2 separate regions of the Homo sapiens genome follow, and region 2 is linked to region 1. The links come from fine-mapping of genetic effects on gene expression. Tissue or cell type: whole blood. Region 1 holds a variant in brackets; the other region holds the start of a gene. All regions are shown on one strand. Distances are between the middles of the regions.

The links. PIP is the estimated chance that this variant, and not a neighbour inherited with it, causes the effect.
Region 2: TNFRSF13C starts here. The variant in region 1 is fine-mapped to the expression of TNFRSF13C in whole blood (INTERVAL, PIP 0.95).

Annotation. Positions count from the first base shown.
Region 1 is chr22:41,211,404-41,219,661 of GRCh38, reverse strand. L3MBTL2 (L3MBTL histone methyl-lysine binding protein 2) reads right to left here. Exons shown (of 17, transcript NM_031488.5): 3 at 5,636-5,769; 4 at 3,400-3,523; 5 at 2,460-2,539; 6 at 126-243. L3MBTL2-AS1 (L3MBTL2 antisense RNA 1) reads left to right here and starts at 2,035. Exons shown (of 3, transcript NR_148200.1): 1 at 2,035-2,630; 2 at 4,959-6,032. RefSeq lists enhancers at 467-1,163, 1,164-1,861. The variant G/A (reference allele first, on the strand shown) is at 4,759.
Region 2 is chr22:41,922,318-41,930,317 of GRCh38, reverse strand. It overlaps TNFRSF13C (TNF receptor superfamily member 13C), which reads left to right and starts at 3,512. Exons shown (of 3, transcript NM_052945.4): 1 at 3,512-3,680; 2 at 3,987-4,217; 3 at 4,764-8,000. The coding sequence starts at 3,545. The coding sequence ends at 4,951. MIR378I (microRNA 378i) reads left to right here and starts at 7,021; the gene lies at 7,021-7,096. It also overlaps a transcript of CENPM not described here. RefSeq lists enhancers at 293-902, 903-1,513, 1,657-1,726, 4,284-4,783, 4,784-5,285 and 1 more and a silencer at 3,452-4,191.

The DNA.
Region 1 (8,258 bases):
GGCAAAAATTCCAGTGGGTGGGATTTTTGTTTTATGAAGCCAACTCCTGCCTACAACACTGTTCACCCATCTAGAGATGTCACTCTGCAGACACATCCCTGGCCCTGCCCTGGCCAAACACTCACCTGCTGTCTGGATGACAGAGGCGATCCAGTACACCCGGCTGGGGAGCACAGCATCACTGTTGAGCACCTCCACCTTCATCCCTTTCATCACATCCTCCCACTGGTCATAGAGTGGGACCTGTGTGGCGATGAGAGTGTACCGAGAGAGTGAGCTAACTGTGCTAGCAGGGGAGACAGACTGCCTCACGGCCTCAGTCAAGTCCTCGTTTGCACCTCAACTTTTCACATCACCCACTGTGTGCAGAACCAGCTACTAGAGATAAAGAGATGAGGTCTCCTGTCCTTGAAGAGCTAAGCCGGGAGTAGAGGTGGAGGTGGTGGGATGCAGGGTGATGGCTAGAGACCCAGAGTCAGACAGAACCGAGTCCTAAAATCTTTATAGGACTGGTTTCTTACTGTATCATTTTGGGCACATGATGCCTTGGTGAGCCTCGATCCCTTCGTCCCTGTGCCAGCCCGAGCAATGGCAGGGCGCTGATATTAGCACAAATATACTTTCCTTCAATCATCATACAAACCTGGGCTGTGGGCATTATGACCCCCTTGTTTACACACAGCCATCCACCTGCAAGTTTACTCTCTACCTCCCCTCCTACTGAAATGCTCCAGGGGGCCAGGCATGGTGGCTCACGCCTGTAATCCCAGCACTTTGGGAGGCCGAGACGGGCGGATCACCTGAGGCTGGGAGTTCGAGACCAGCCTGACCAACATGGAGAATCCATGTCTCTACTAAAAATACAAAATTAGCCGGGCGTGGTGGTGGCACATGCCTGTAATCCCAGCTACTCCGGAGGCTGAGGCAGGAGAATCGCTTGAACCTGGGAGGGGGAGGCTGCTGTGAGCTGAGATAGTGCCATTGCACTCCAGCTCTGGGCAACAAGAGTGAAACTCCCATATCGAAAAAATAAATAAAATAAAATAAAGTGCCCCAGGACAGCACTGGACTGTTTCAGTTGCCTTCCCAGTACCTAATCCTCACTTTCCTGCCAATGGTACTTTTGATTCTCCTTTGGGAGAATCACTTTTTTTAGAGTCTTGCTCCGTCACCCAGGCTGGAGTGCAGTGGCGCAATCTCAGCTCATTACAACCTCCGCCTCTCAGGTTCAAGGGATTCTCCTGTCTCGGCCTCCCAAGTAGCTGGGATTACAGGTGCCTGCCACCACTTCCAGCTAATTTTTGTATTTTTAGTAGAGATGGGGTTTCACCATGTTGGCCAGGCTGGTCTCGAACTCCTCACCTCAGGTGATCCACCCGCCTCGGCCTCCCAAAGTGCTGGGATTATAGGGGTAAGCCACTGCGCCTGGCCAAATTCACCTTTTTTATTCTCAGCCCTGGCTTCAGCCAGTTGAGGTATCCCATTCCATCTCCCTGGTCACTTGAGTTTAGTTCATCACAGAACCCGGACACAGTTGCGCTAGCCCAGGCACGCAGGGGCAGGCTTTTTACAAAGCAAATTGGATTATATGTGTTAGACACAAGGATGATGCAACTCCCTGGAAATGAAAATGCTGAAACTATTAGAGAATTCAGGGCAAAAAAGAGGCTCCCCCTCCAGCAGGAAGGAGGTGCACCTTCATTAGCCATTCAGAGACGAGAGGAGTGAGTTAGCTGAGTCAAGAAGCAGCTGTCATTGTTCAGGGCACTCCCCAGAGTTCAGTGGCAGTTCTGAAAGGAGGAGAGGAAGTGGCTTACTCTGGGTAAAAGACTCCCTACTTCCTCAAGACTAAAGAGGCCTCCTCCTGGATTTCCCGGAGCTTAGGGACGTGGTGTGAAGACAAAACAAGAGTGCTGTTGTGGGCTCTGCTCTCCCGGCCTGCAGGCTCCACACGTCACAGCTGCTGGATATTCGGTTCTTGCGCTCAAGCCCCGCCCCTAAGGGCCTTGCCCTTCGTTCTGGCTTTTACATGATCCGCATCGAGGAGCCTTTTACAGAAGTGGCTCCAGGAGCATCCACATCTGCCTCTCGGGGCCCACGGGGCCCAGGCCAGCTACAGAAGCACCCTGCTTTCCATGGGAAAATGCTGCAAATGGGGGAGAAAGGAGAGAAGGGTTTCAGACTGCAAAGACCCTTCGACATCAGCTAGCACCAAGTTCCATCATGTAAATAAACTGAAGGGCTTCAGACCGGGAGTGAAGCCAAGCAGGTGATAGAAGTGTTTGTAGGAGGATTTTTTTGACATAAACATGAAATGGAGCGAGTGGTAACGCCATCCGTCTCCTGCCCAGACCTCCCCACTGTCACTGTCCAGCCTGAAGCCGCCCTGGTGAAGCAGGTGGAGGAGCAGCTCCAGGCCCGGCTCCCCGGCCTCCCTCCCTCAGCTCCAGGGCACTCACGTGCTTGAAACAGCTGACGGGAGCAGCCTTGTAACTGTGATCCTTCAGGAACTTCCCCCAGTCGAAGCCCAAGACCAGAGCTGCAGAGCAGAGAGGACGAGTCAGACTAGGAGCCTGCGCAGCAGCCACTCCAGGAGCCTGGACCCCAAGGGCCCTGTGGGACCTGCAGAGGTAGGTCCCCCACCCCCAGCAGCCCCTCTCACAGCGCTGCCCACGACACCCTCCTTCACTCCCATACCTGATCCACCAGTGGCCATGAGGGACCACTGTTGAGGACTGAATTGAAAGGTGGCAAGACTCTCAGGAGTAGAGGAACATTCAAAGGGAAATTTCTCGCCCTTCTTCCCCCAAAGGGGAAAACTGAAATATCCCTGGGCTTAAATTCCTCCCTCCGCCCTGAACCTGATTGGCCACACCCAATCTAAATGTGGGGGAGGGGGTGCGCACACACCAGGGCCCCTCCAACTGAGCTCCGGCCTGCTGAGCTCAATTTCAGTTAGAAACTCAGAACAATGATAGCAGAGTTGCTTTATGCATACATTTAACTTGCTTAGCAATTGCTACACACTCAGAGAGAGGCTCCTTTCCTTATCCCACCACCCCTCTCCAAACCTGCCTTCAAACCATATCTGGGCCTTCGTTGCCCCAGGGAAACAGAAACCAAAAGGATAAAAGCAAAGAGAAACAAAAACAGCCAATTCTTGGCTTTTGAATTATCATGGGTAGGAGTCCTGATAATTTAAGGGTGTTTGAAGGCATTTTTCTGGGTAATTTCCACAATACCCAACAGGTGAGGAAGATGCAATCCGCAGTGACCCTGACTTAGGGCACTTTCTACCTGGCCGGTTTGCCCAGTCTTCATTCCTAGGAAAGGCCACCCCAAACCCAGTCTCCTCCCCAGCCACGGCAGCTTCCTAAGCAGGGCCCTCTGCTATCTTACCGTCTTGTCCTGTTGGTGTCCCATCTGCCAGCTGTCCTGTCCCTTGAGAGTGGAGGAAGGCTCCAATTTTGGCAGACCAGGCAGCCTTGTGCAGGACTTTGGCTTTTTTGGTCGGTGGTTTTCCCTGGAGAGGAGGACAGAGGCTATGTGTAGCCTGGCGGCTGGGATCATGAGTCTGGATTTGGGCCGCCAAGTTGAAGTCCTGGGCTTGGGCCAGTGACTTAACCTCTTTTGGGCTTCAGTTTCTTCATGTGTGAAACAGTGATGACAATAACAATCCTGAGCTCAGGGGGTGGTTGTGGGGAAGCGTCGGGGGTGCTAGGGGGTGCTAGGCAGTGCTGCAGAGCAGGGAGAGACCCATGTTCTATCTTTTAAGCCTTTCTGTCCTCCCAGATTCAAGTCTCAGTCATCTCCTTCCTCCAGTGTCGCTACTGATAGATCCAAAGCAAAGAATGGGCCTCACAGGGGCCCAGAAACGCTCATGAACTGGGAGGCAACCTTCTGTACATACGCGAATGTTTGGGAGAGGGTCCACATAGGCGAATGTTCGGGAGAGGGTCCACATAGGCGAATGTTCGGGAGAGGGTCCACATAGGCGAATGTTCGGGAGAGGGTCCACATAGGCGAATGTTTGGGAGAGGACCCACAGCTTTCATTAGGTACTCAAAGGGGGTCCTCCCTTTCCAAAGGGAATGGCCACTGATCTGGTCTGTATTTTGTAACTTAAGTACTGAACAGGAAGGCCAGGAATTTACTAAAGAGATCAGTGAAGCAGAAATCTGGGTTTAAGTCCCAAACAAACCTACAGGGCAAATCCCAGTTCTACAGTTTTTAGTTGTATACCTTTAAGTAAGTTACTAAAATTTCTGAGCCTTTATAAAAAGGAATTTTTTTAAAAATCAAATTTTTTAAGATCGTTAATTGGACTGAGAATGTCAAGCCCTTAGCAAGTACTCCCAAACCATAGCTATTAATATTACCAATATTATTCTTAGCTCTCGGAAGAGAGGGATCTTTCGGTGCCTTAAGTAAAATCTACAAAATGGGGAAACAATGGTAATTGTCTCACAAAGGCGACAGTGTATGAAGCAGTAAGCAGAAGGATCTGGGACACAGCAATTTCTAATAAACATCGGTGGTGCTCAAACTTCGCTGCACATTAGGATCACCTGGGAGCTCTTCCAATCTCTGTCCAGGCTACACACCATCCCAGTTAAATCAGAACCTTTCGGAGTAGGACCCAAGCATCAATATATTTTACATAATATTTTCCCCCCAGGCTGGAGTGCAGTGGCACGATCTCGGCTCACTGCAACCTCCACCTCCCAAGTTCAAGCGATTCTCCTGCCTCAGCCTCCC[G/A]AGTAACTGGGACTACAGGCGTACAACACCACGCCTGGCTAATTTTTGTATTTTTAGTAGAGACGGGGTTTCATCATGTTGGCTGGGATGGTCTCGATCTCCTGACCTCGTGATCCGCCCGCCTCGGTCTCCCAAAGTGCTGGGATTACAGGCGTGAGCCACCGTGCCCGACCAGCATCAATAATTTTTAAACTTTCCAGGTGATCCCAACATGCAGGCAAATTTGGGAAGCAGTGTTGCAGATGCTGGTCCCAGCTACTGGGAAACAAGGTAAGATGAGGCCCCTGAGATGAGGTTCCAGCCTCAATTCCGCCATTCTCCTCCTACAGAGCCACACTAGGTATGTCATTCTACCTCCTTGGACCTCAGTATACTTATCAATAAATGTGTGGGTTCAACACCACATCCAAGAATCTTTCCATCTCTAAAGATTCTATAAATATCAGTAATTTAGAAAATTGGCAAGACTTTCTAGGTAGCTGCCTGTGACATGGAGTCCGAGGAGGCATGGTCTTCCTGAAGCCACCGTGGCTGGTGAACCTTGGGCCTGTTTCCCAACTTCCTTTGAAAGGATTTATAAAAGTGTGGGGTGAAGACCAAGGGTGTCAGACTCCCCCATAGTTCTTGTTTAAAATGTACTGAATACACCAGACTCTGGGGGATGATGGTAGGTAATGGAGCGTAGCTTCAGGAACCTATAATTTAAAAAGCTCCACAAATGGATTCTACTGTCCTCTGAAGTTTGAGAACATAATAAATACCAGCTGGCCACAAGCAAGGACCTTTTCAAACTTTCCTGGCCCTGGCCTTCAGTCACTTGGTGGTTCCTGTCTCAGCACCAAAGGCACCGGGAAGGATCCAAGTGATTGCCTCTCACCTGTAACCTAGCCAAGATACTGGCTTTCTTGGAGTTGGAGGAGTAGCTCCTGGAGCAGGAGACGCTGCAGAACCTCTTGGTCTTGGAGAAGAAGGCTTCCCTTGTACCCACGATACCACACATCTCACAGACAGCTGGGAAGAGAACTTAGCACATGACTCACCCGATATGACCACCTCAAAGCAAACAAAGTGATGGGCCCTTCAAAACCTGGGGCACTGCATTAACCAGGTGAGCCCCTGCCCCCACAAAGGCTAATGGAATAAGAGGAGGAATGGGAGGTACTGGTGTGTATATCCTGAATCTACCTGAATGAAGTGCTGCTGCTTGGCCTCCCTTGGCTACAGATGTCAACAGAGGGGCTAATGGAAATCCATGAGGACGACTGGGGGAACAGGTGAGTGTTGAAAAGTTTGTCAGAGGAAAGTGAGAAGAAACTAGGCATGGTAGCTCCTGTCTGTAATCCCGGCAGTTTGGGAGGCCAAGGAGGGAGGATTGCTTGAGGGCAAGAATTTGAGACCATCCTGGGCAACATAGCAAGACCTTGTTGCCCAAAAAAAAAAAAAAAAGGCCAGGTGTGATTTGGCGGGGGGAAACTGCCTGAGCCCAGGAGGCTGAGGCTGCAGTGAGCCATGACTGCACCACTGTACCTCTAGCCTGGGCAACAAAGTAAGACACTGTCTCAAAAAAAAGCGAAAAAATTTATAGGAAGAAAAAGTGCCAAAGTCACTTAACCTCTGTGGCTCTATTTTCTCATCTATATAGTAAAGGGACTGAACTAGATCAGTGTTTTATTTATTTATTTTTGAGACGGAGCCTTGCTCTGTCACCCAGCCTGGAGTAGTACACTGGCGCAATCTTGGCTCACTGCAAGCTCTGCCTCCCGGGTTCACGCCATTCTCCTGCATCAGCCTCCCGAGTAGCTGGGACTACAGGCACTGCCACCACACCCAGCTAATTTTTTTGTGTTTTTAGTAGAGACGGGGTTTCACCATGTTAGCCAGGATGGTCTCAATCTCCTGACCTTGTGATCCGCCGTGTCGGCCTCCCAAAGTGTTGGGATTACAGGCGTGAGCCAATGCGCCCAGCTAGATCAGTGTTTTAATCGTGACTTCACTTTTTTTTTTTTTTGAGATGGAGTTTTGCTCTTGTTGCCCAGGATGGAGTGCAGTGGCGCCATCTTGGCTCATTGCAACCTTCGACTCCCGGGTTCAAGGGATTCTCCTGCCTCAGCCTCTTGAGTAGCTGGGACTACAGGCATGTGCCACCACGCCTGGCTAATTTTTTATATCTTTAGTAGAGACGGGGTTTCGCCATGTTGAGCAGGCTGGTCTTGAACTCCTGACCTTGTGATCCTCCCGCCTCGGCCTCCCAAAGTGCTGGGATTACAGGCGTGAGCCACCATGCCTGGCCCGTGACTTCACTATTAGACCCACCTGGGGAGCTTTTAAAAATGCCTGAGATGGCCGGGCGCGGTGGTGGGCGTCTATAATCCCAGCTACTCCGGAGGCTGGGGCAGGAGAATCCCTTCAACCTGGGAGGCGGAGGTTGCAGTGAGCTGAGATGGCACCACTGCACTCCAGCCTGGGCAACAAGAGTGAAACGCTGTCTCAAAAAAAAAAAAAAAAAAGCCTGAACCTAAAATTCTAATGAATTGGTCTGTGACGGGATACTGGTACCTGTAGTTTGTTAAAAGCTCCCCTAGATGATTCTAATGTGCAGAACCCCTGGTCTAAGTGGTCTCTAATGGTTCCTTCTAGTTCTAAATCCTAAGATTCTAAGAGAAGGGCTGGAAGAGGATAGAAGGGAGAAAGATAAAAGGCAAGGGATGAAAAGAAGACAATATAAATAGAAAGGAAGTAAGGCCGGGAGCGGTGGCTCACGCCTGCAATCCCAGCACTTTGGGAGGCTGAGGCGGGCGGATCACGTAGTCAGGAGATTGAGACCATCCTGGCTAACACGGTGAAACCCCGTCTCTACTAAAAAATACAAAAAATTAGCCGGGCATGGCGGAGGGCGCCTGTAGTCCCAGCTACTTGGGAGGCTGAGGCAGGAGAATGGCGTGAACCCGGGAGGCGGAGCTTGCAGTGAGCCAAGATCGTGCCACTGCGTTCCGGCCTGGGTGACACAGCGAGACTCTGTTTCAAAAAAAAAAAAAAAAAAAAAAAAAGGCCGGGTGCGGTGGCTCACGCCTGTAATCCCAGCATTTTTGGAGGCCGAGGAGGGCAGATCACAAGGTCAGGAGATCGAGACCATCCTGGCTAACATGGTGAAACCCCGTCTCTACTAAAATACAAAAAAAATTAGCCGGGTGTGGTGGCAGGCGCCTGTAGTCCCAGCTGCTGGGGAGGCTGAGGCAGGAGAATGGCTTGAACCTGGGAGGCGGAACTTGCAGTGAGCCAAGATCATGTCACTGCATTCCAGCCTGGGTGACAGAGCAAGACTCCGTCTCAAAAAAAAAAAAAAAAAGGAAATAAGATTCAACTGCAAAGAGTATTAGATTACTCTTCTAACGAGTTTGGGGCTGGGTGCGGTGGCTCATGCCTGTAATCCTAGCACTTTGGGAGGCTGAGGTGGGGGATCACTTGAGCTTGGGAGTTCAAGACCAGCCTGGGTAACAGGG
Region 2 (8,000 bases), 710 kb before region 1:
GCAGAGGCTGCAGTGAGCCGAGATCACGCCACTGCACTCCAGCCTGGGTGACAGAGCCAGACTCCGTCTCAAAAAAAAAAGGGACGCGGTGGCTCACGTCTGTAATCCCATCACTTTGGGAGGGCGAGGCGGGCAGATCTCGAGGTGAGGAGATCAAGACCATCCTGGCTAACGGTGAAACCCCGTCTCTACTAAAAATACAAAAAATTTGCCGGGCATGGTGGCGGGCGCCTGTAGTCCCAGCTACTCGGGAGGCTGAGGCAGGAGAATGGCGTGAACCTGGGAGGCGGAGCTTGCAGTGAGCGGAGATTGCGCCACTGCACTCCAGCCTGGGCGACAGAGAGAGACTCCGTCTCAAAAAAAAAAAAAAAAAAAAAAAAAAGCCACGGGGAAATAAGAATACATTGAGGAGTAAACTAACATTCCCCACATTGGTCTGATTGTGAATTCTTCTTAACTGTTTTGTCATCCAAGTAGCGACACAGGGCCTGCTGCAGCCCCCCACCCCCACCCCATTTAGGAGGCCCAAGTGGAAAGGTTCATGTGAGGCCAGGCACCTGCACACAACACAGACACGAATCCCGCAGGCCTTTTGTCCCGGCACCTGGCCCAGCACATAGGGAGCGCCCAGCAAACATTTGTGTCACATGAGTGGGTGTCTCATTTGTGTCTGCTGCTCTTAGCAGCTGGCCTCCCTCTCTGGCCAAGGTAAGGGACCCTGGAACTCTGACAGTGGGCTCCAGCCCTCCCACTCTCTCTGGCCTTGAGAGCAGTCTCCTCGAGTCTCTGCTGGGGGTCAGAGCAGCCAGTGCTTCTGCTGTGAAACGCAGACCTGGGGCAGGCGGACCCCCTCCTCCTAACTCCTGTAAATTCTCCCGACTCTGGCCTCACTGGGCCACCCTCTCCAGGGACAGGTTCCCCGTTCCTGGGTTCCCACAAGCCTCAGTCTGCCCACATGGCTGGCACAAGGGCTAAATGAGCTGCCTGGTACTCAGTCAGGCCTCTGCAGCCCTCACTAATGGGTAATACCAGCACCAACATGGATGGACGTGTATGTGGGTGGCAGGGTTATGGCTCAGTCTTCTGGCTTTGTCCCCACCTCTCTGCCTCACAGAGAGGCCTTCCCTGCCCTGGCTCCCCTCCAGGGTCCTGTCCCCCATCCCTGTACCGTACACCCACGCTCACCCACACCTGCCCCCACCCCCACATCACCATACACCCACGCTCACCCACACCTGCCCCCAGCCCCACTTCTCCTTTGCAGCTCCCCTCCGCCCACACCTTCCTGCCTGGGAGCTGCTGGCCCATGTACAGGGGATGGAGAGGGTGGGCCAGCGCCCACCAGTCAGGGCTGGCTGACTGGGGTTCTTTGTGAACCTTCAGGGTCTCCCAAGCTGGAAACCTGGGGGTCGGCCTTGCTCCCCTCACTCCATGGCCAGCCGCTGCATCATCCCCTGCCCTGGGCCACCTGCCCTGGACGTGGGCCACAGTGCCAGAGAGAGGGACCCTTGCAGGTACAGCTCAGAATCTCCCTCCTACCCAGACACCCCCAGGTTCTGTACTGCCCCGGGACTGGTGCCCTGCCCATCCGCAGCCCGGATGCTCCCTCCTCCCTCCCAGCATCCCCTGTGGCAGTGGCCATGCCTGCCCCCAGAGCAGCTCAGGCTCCCCTTTCATCTCTCCAAGCCTTAGCCCCTGCAGCCCTCCGCCTGGAGTGTTTGCCTCCCCCTCGCTGCTGCTCAGGGTCTCCCTCTGCCCCCAGGCTCCCTCCCCAGCCCCTGAGTTTCTCCTCTCACTGTGCTTCCCCAGCCCTGAGTGCTTAGGGGTCTGGGTGGCATGTGTGGCATTTAACCCCATGCTCTCTGCTGAGCCCTGAGCTCCCAGAGTTCCCTCCAGCCCTGGCCCTGGGGAGGGGGTAGCATGTGACCAGGAGGGCGGAGGGGCTTGTGTGTGTTTCTGAGACGCAGTCTGAGAGAGACACGGGTGACAGACAGTTGGGGACCCCAAACACTGGGGAGCAGAGATAGACAGGAGGGGCCCGCAGTGAGACACAGAGGTGAGCAGGAGAGGACACATAGCCCTGGAGAAAAGGAGCAGGTGTGGGCGGGCTTCCCTCCACTGCAGTCACAGTTCCCTCACTCATAGGCAGATCTTCCTGGGTCCTCCCTGCACAAAGCCCCAGTGGCTCCCTCGTGTCCCCCAGCCACAGTCCAAGCTCCCTAATGTGCTAGATAAGGCCCCAGTCCAGCCTTTCGGTCCCAGCACTCCCTGGACTTCCTGTTTGGGCCTCCAAGCCTTTGCTCCCCTTTGGCCTTCACCCCCATCTGCTCCCTAGACCTCAGTCCATCTGGCAAACACTTCACCATCGCCCTCTCCATGAAGCCTTCCGGCCCACCTTCCAGGATGACGTGAGCTGGTGCCCTTGCTGCGAGGCTGTCTTCCCCCATCAGCACAAGTGTGAGATTCCCTCAGGGCAGACCCACATGCTACTTGGGCCTGGTACAAGTGTCTGATGTCAGGCTGGGCACTGTGGCTTCACACCTATAATCCCAGCACTTTGGGAGGCCGAGGAGGGCGGATCACCTGAGGTCAGGAGTTCGAGACCAGCCTGGCCAAATGGTGAAACCCCACCTCTACTAAAAATACAAAAATTAGCCGGGCATGGTGGTGCATGCCTGTAATCCCAGTTACTCGGGAGGCTGAGGCAGGAGAATCGCTTGAATCTGGGAGGCAGAGGTTGCAGTGAGCCGAGATTGCACCACTGCACAGAGCCAGACTCTTTTTCAAAAAAAAAAAAAAAAAAAGCAGGTGTCTGATATCCCCAACCAGCTCTGTCCAGGAAGGGCAGGAAGAGAGGAGGAGACAGGTGGGTTGGGGGAGATGGCAGGGGAGCACTCGGGGTCATGGAGAGGCTTTGGCTAGACGGAGCAGAGGAACCACTCAGGGTCTGTGTCCTGGCTGCGGGGTCCATCCCCCTCCCTACCCAAGAGGAGGCTCTGGTCTGCCCCCAGACACCTCCCAGCACCCAGCAGAGGGCCCACCCAGGCGGTGCTGGTTGAGGGGCTGAATTGGGGAACCACAGGTAGAAAGAGAGGCCAGGCCGGGTGCGGTGGCTCACGCCTGTAATCCTAGCACTTTGGGAGGCCGAGGCAGGTGGATCACGAGGTCAGGAGTTCAAAACCAGTCTGACCAAGATGGTGAAACCCCGTCTCTACTAAAAATACAAAAATTAGCCGGGCGTGGCAGTGGGCGCCTACAATCTCAGCTACTCGGGAGGCTGAGGCAGAGAATTGTTTGAACCCGGGAGGCAGAGCTTGCAGTGAGCCGAGATAGCGCCATTGCACTCCAGCCTGGGCGACAGAGCGAGACTCCGTCTCAAAAAAAAAAAAAGAAAAGAAAGGGGGGCCCCAGGCGAGCTCGGTCCCACCCAGCAGGCGGGGGCGGGGCAGGGCAGAGTGCTCCCCCCGCCCCCCGCTTCCTCCCCGAGGGCCCCGGAGCCCAGCTCAGCCTCAGTCCCCGCAGCTTGTGCGGCGGCGTCGGCACCATGAGGCGAGGGCCCCGGAGCCTGCGGGGCAGGGACGCGCCAGCCCCCACGCCCTGCGTCCCGGCCGAGTGCTTCGACCTGCTGGTCCGCCACTGCGTGGCCTGCGGGCTCCTGCGCACGCCGCGGCCGAAACCGGGTAAGGGGGACCCACGGGGCGCGCGGCGCCGGCAGCTGCGGGGAGAACGGGGCCCCGATCGCCAGGGCGCAGGCAGAGCCCCGACCCCCGGGGGCGCCGAGGGCTGAAAGGACCCTGTGGGCAGGGCCTGGAGGGGCCCGCGATCACCGCGTGGCCCTCACCGCCGCCTCTCTCCCTCCCCTTGTCCACCGCCCCCCGGCTGTCCCTCCCCTCCCCGGCCAGCCTCGCCCCCCTCCGCCCCTCCCCGTCCCCGCTCCTCCCTCCCCTCGGCCCCCTGGCCTCCCTCCCTGTCCCCTCCCGAAGCAGCCGGGGCCAGCAGCCCTGCGCCCAGGACGGCGCTGCAGCCGCAGGAGTCGGTGGGCGCGGGGGCCGGCGAGGCGGCGCTGCCCCTGCCCGGGCTGCTCTTTGGCGCCCCCGCGCTGCTGGGCCTGGCACTGGTCCTGGCGCTGGTCCTGGTGGGTCTGGTGAGCTGGAGGCGGCGACAGCGGCGGCTTCGCGGCGCGTCCTCCGCAGAGGCCCCCGACGGAGACAAGGACGGTGAGTTCCGTGTGTAGGGGAACCAGTCTGAGCGGGGCGCAGGGGCTGGGGTGTCGGGACGGTCTAGGGGGAGATGCATGGCCCCTGAGGGGGAGAGAAGGGCTTTAAGGGGAAACGGAGACAGAGTGGAAAAGAGTTTGCGCTGAGGAGCTCAGGCTGGGGAGGGAGACATAGTCCTGCCCCTGAGACCCTGGTCGGAGCCAGGAACAGCTCTGCCCTGACAGACCCCAGTGTGAGGAAGAGACAGGTTGCAGGAAGGGGGCCCCGTCTGAGGGAGGAGTCTGTCCTGCCCTTTGGGAGTCTAACGGAGCTTGGTTCCCCCATAAATCCCTGAAGAGTTTGCCAGACTGAGCCCCAGCTCCCCAACTCCCTGCCCTGCCAGCTCCCCACTGGCCAGGCCTCTGGACTCAGGGTCAGCCAGGTGCCACCCCTCCCCACCCTGCATTGGGCTTCATTTGACGGAGGACTGCCCCTCCAGAGGAGTCTTCTAGGGGAGGGAGGGAAGGCTGTGACTGAGTACGGAGCCTCTACCCCCTCTGCCTGCAGCCCCAGAGCCCCTGGACAAGGTCATCATTCTGTCTCCGGGAATCTCTGATGCCACAGCTCCTGCCTGGCCTCCTCCTGGGGAAGACCCAGGAACCACCCCACCTGGCCACAGTGTCCCTGTGCCAGCCACAGAGCTGGGCTCCACTGAACTGGTGACCACCAAGACGGCCGGCCCTGAGCAACAATAGCAGGGAGCCGGCAGGAGGTGGCCCCTGCCCTCCCTCTGGACCCCCAGCCAGGGGCTTGGAAATCAAATTCAGCTCTTCACTCCAGCATGCACATGCCCTCTTTCTGGGACCAGGCTAACTCTGCAGAAGCACAGACACTACAGACCACAGCATTCAGCCCCCATGGAGTTTGGTGTGCTTGCCTTTGGCTTCAGACCTCACCATCTTTGACAGCCCTTGAAGGTGGTAGCCCAGCTCCTGTTCCTGTGCCTTCAAAAGGCTGGGGCACTATGAGTAAAAGACCGCTTTTAAAATGGGGAAGGCACCATTAAGCCAAAATGAATCTGAAAAAAGACCAAGTGGGAGGATGCCTAATTTGTAGTTGGGTGGTTTTTTGTGTTTGTTTGATTTTTTTTTTTTTTTTTTTTTTTTTTTTTTGAGACGAGTCTTGCTCTGTCGCCAGGCTGGAGTACAGTGGCGCGATCTCGCCTCACTGTAACCTCCGACTCCTTGGTTCAAGTGATTCTCCTGCCTCAGCCTCCCGAATAGCTGGGATTACAGGCACGCACCACCACAGCCAGCTAATTTTTGTATTTTTAGTAGAGACGGGATTTCACCATGTTGGCCAGGATGGTCTCGATCTCCTGACCTCGTGATCCGCCCTGCTCGGCCTCCCAAAGTGCTGGGATTACAGGCATGAGCCACCATGCCCGGCCTTGTTTTGTGTTTTGGTTTTTTTTGAGACAGGGTCTTGCTGTATCACGCAGGCTGGAGTGCAACGATGGGTCCCCAGCTAATTGCAGCCTGGGCTCAAGCAATCTTTCTGCTTCAGCCTCCTGAGTAGGTGGGACTACAGGTGCTCCACCTTGCCCAGCTAATTTTTTTTTTTTTTTTTTTTTTGAGACAGAGTCTCGCTCTGTCGCCTAGGCTGGAGTGCAGTGACGCAATTTCGGCTCACTTCAAGCTCCGCCTCCTGGGTTCACACCATTCTCCTGCCTGAGCCTCCTGAGTAGCTGGGACTATAGGCGCCCGCCATCACGCCCGGCTAATTTTTTTTGTATTTTTAGTAGAGACGGGGTGTCACCGTATTAGCCAGGATGGTCTCGATCTCCTGACCTCGTGATCCGCCCGCCTCAGCCTCCCAAAGTGCTAGGATTACAGGCGTGAGCCACCGTGGCTGGCCTTTTTTTTTTTTTAAAGACAGGGTCTCGGTATGTTGCCCAGGCCAGTCTCAAACTCCTGGCCTCAGGCAGTCCTCCCCGAAGGGCTGGGATTATAGGCAGGAGGCGCCGGGCCTGGCCTCTATTTCTTTAATACCTGCCCTCAGAGCCGTCCTGCTTTTAAACTGATGCAAATGGCAGCAGTGAATAATCAATTCATGGGTTCGCTTGCTTTGGGATTTAGTACAAGATTATTTTAAGAAATAACAAAGGAGAAAAGATTGAGCTGGATTTTGCTGATTCTCAGGTATCTGTACCCCAGGGTCAACCCTGAGATTGGCCCAATCTGCCAGAACCTAAGATGCCATTTTGACCCCAGTGGCAGCTTCCAGAGCCACAAGCCTGCATTTGGGAGGAGGTGCGCAGCCTCCAGGGCTGGACTCCAAACTCGAGCTGAAGGAACATGCTGGCAGGTAGCTCTCTCAGGGTCCACCTGGGGTTCCAGCTGCTCCAAGACACAGCACATTTAGCCATAAACATGGAAGGGCTGGGACCTACAGGAGGCTCCTTTGTGTAGAGGCCAGGGCAGGCGTGTGACCTTGAACCAGGTGGACATGAGGTCCCTTGAACTCCCTTCTCTCTCTGGCTTGTTCCCCTGAAGCACTGGCCCCCCAGTGCTGGGCTTATTTGGCCATCCTGTGCCAGCCCCCTGGTCACCCACCGTCACAGTGGAAGCTGCTCCCTCCTCTTACAATGGTGTTCCTTGCTCTGGGGTCTGGGGACAAGACCATCTCTTTCCACTCCTGGACGACACTGTGCACTCAGTCAGCCGCCTCCTACCTGCCCTCCTGCACAGGGTCAGAACCTCCTGACCTGGACTTCGCCCTGGGCAGCTTCCTTGGAACTTGTTGCAGCTTAGCATCTTTGGAAGGGAGCACTGGACTAGGAGTCAGAAGGTGGAGTTCTGGGTGCTGTTTTCCCACTCTTGGGCCCTGGGCATGTTCTGTTCTGTGCATCAGATGTTTTCTGCCTGCCTCCCCCTGAGCTGCCACCAGAGCCACCTGTAGACCCCTGCTTCTCCTGCCCCTCCTGTCCCTTGCCAGGCCTCTGGACTCAGTGCTTCCTGTCCCAAGGACCTGTTGTGTGCCCAGCTTGGAAGACAGTGGCCACTCACATCCAGGTCTCTGCCTGGCTATTTGCTCCATGAACCCATCTCAGATGCCCCTGCCCCCAGGGAGCCAGGTGACAGGGTGAGGTCAAGTGACAAGCAGTAGGTGTGGGAGAGGTTTGGTGGGGTCAGGCCCACATGGGCCCAGCCATCCACTCCCCTTCCATCTGGAGTTGGGGGAGTCTGAGCTGCTCCTGGCCACCCCATCTGCCCCACCCCATCTTTTCCTGGCCACCCCAGCTCCCACCCCATCTTCTCCTGGCCACCCCATCTCCCACCCCATCTTCTCTTGACACCCCATCTCCCACCCCATCTTCTCCTGGCCACCCCATCTCCCACCCCATCTTCTCCTGGCCACCCCATCTTCTCCTGGCCACCCCATCTCCCCCACCCCATCTTCTCCTGGACACCCCCATCTCCCACCCCATCTTTTGCTACAGCCAGGGTTAGCTCAGCAGGTGAAAACCCCGAGGGTGGGTGAAACCCCTCTGGGGCTCAGACATGCAAACCTTGGGCATCTCTCTGTCCCAGCTGGCCCCGCCAGCCGGTAGGAAGTTTCCCCTGAGTTCTCAGTTTTTTCTTCTGAAAAATGAGGGGTTGTATGCAAGGTTCTCCTCCTGGCCTGTGGTCCCCAGAGAAGGGCAGGAAGGAACCTTAGATAATTCTCATATGCATTTAACAGACGAGGAAACTGAGACCCAGAGCCGTCACATCAATACCTCATTTGATCTTCATAAGAGCA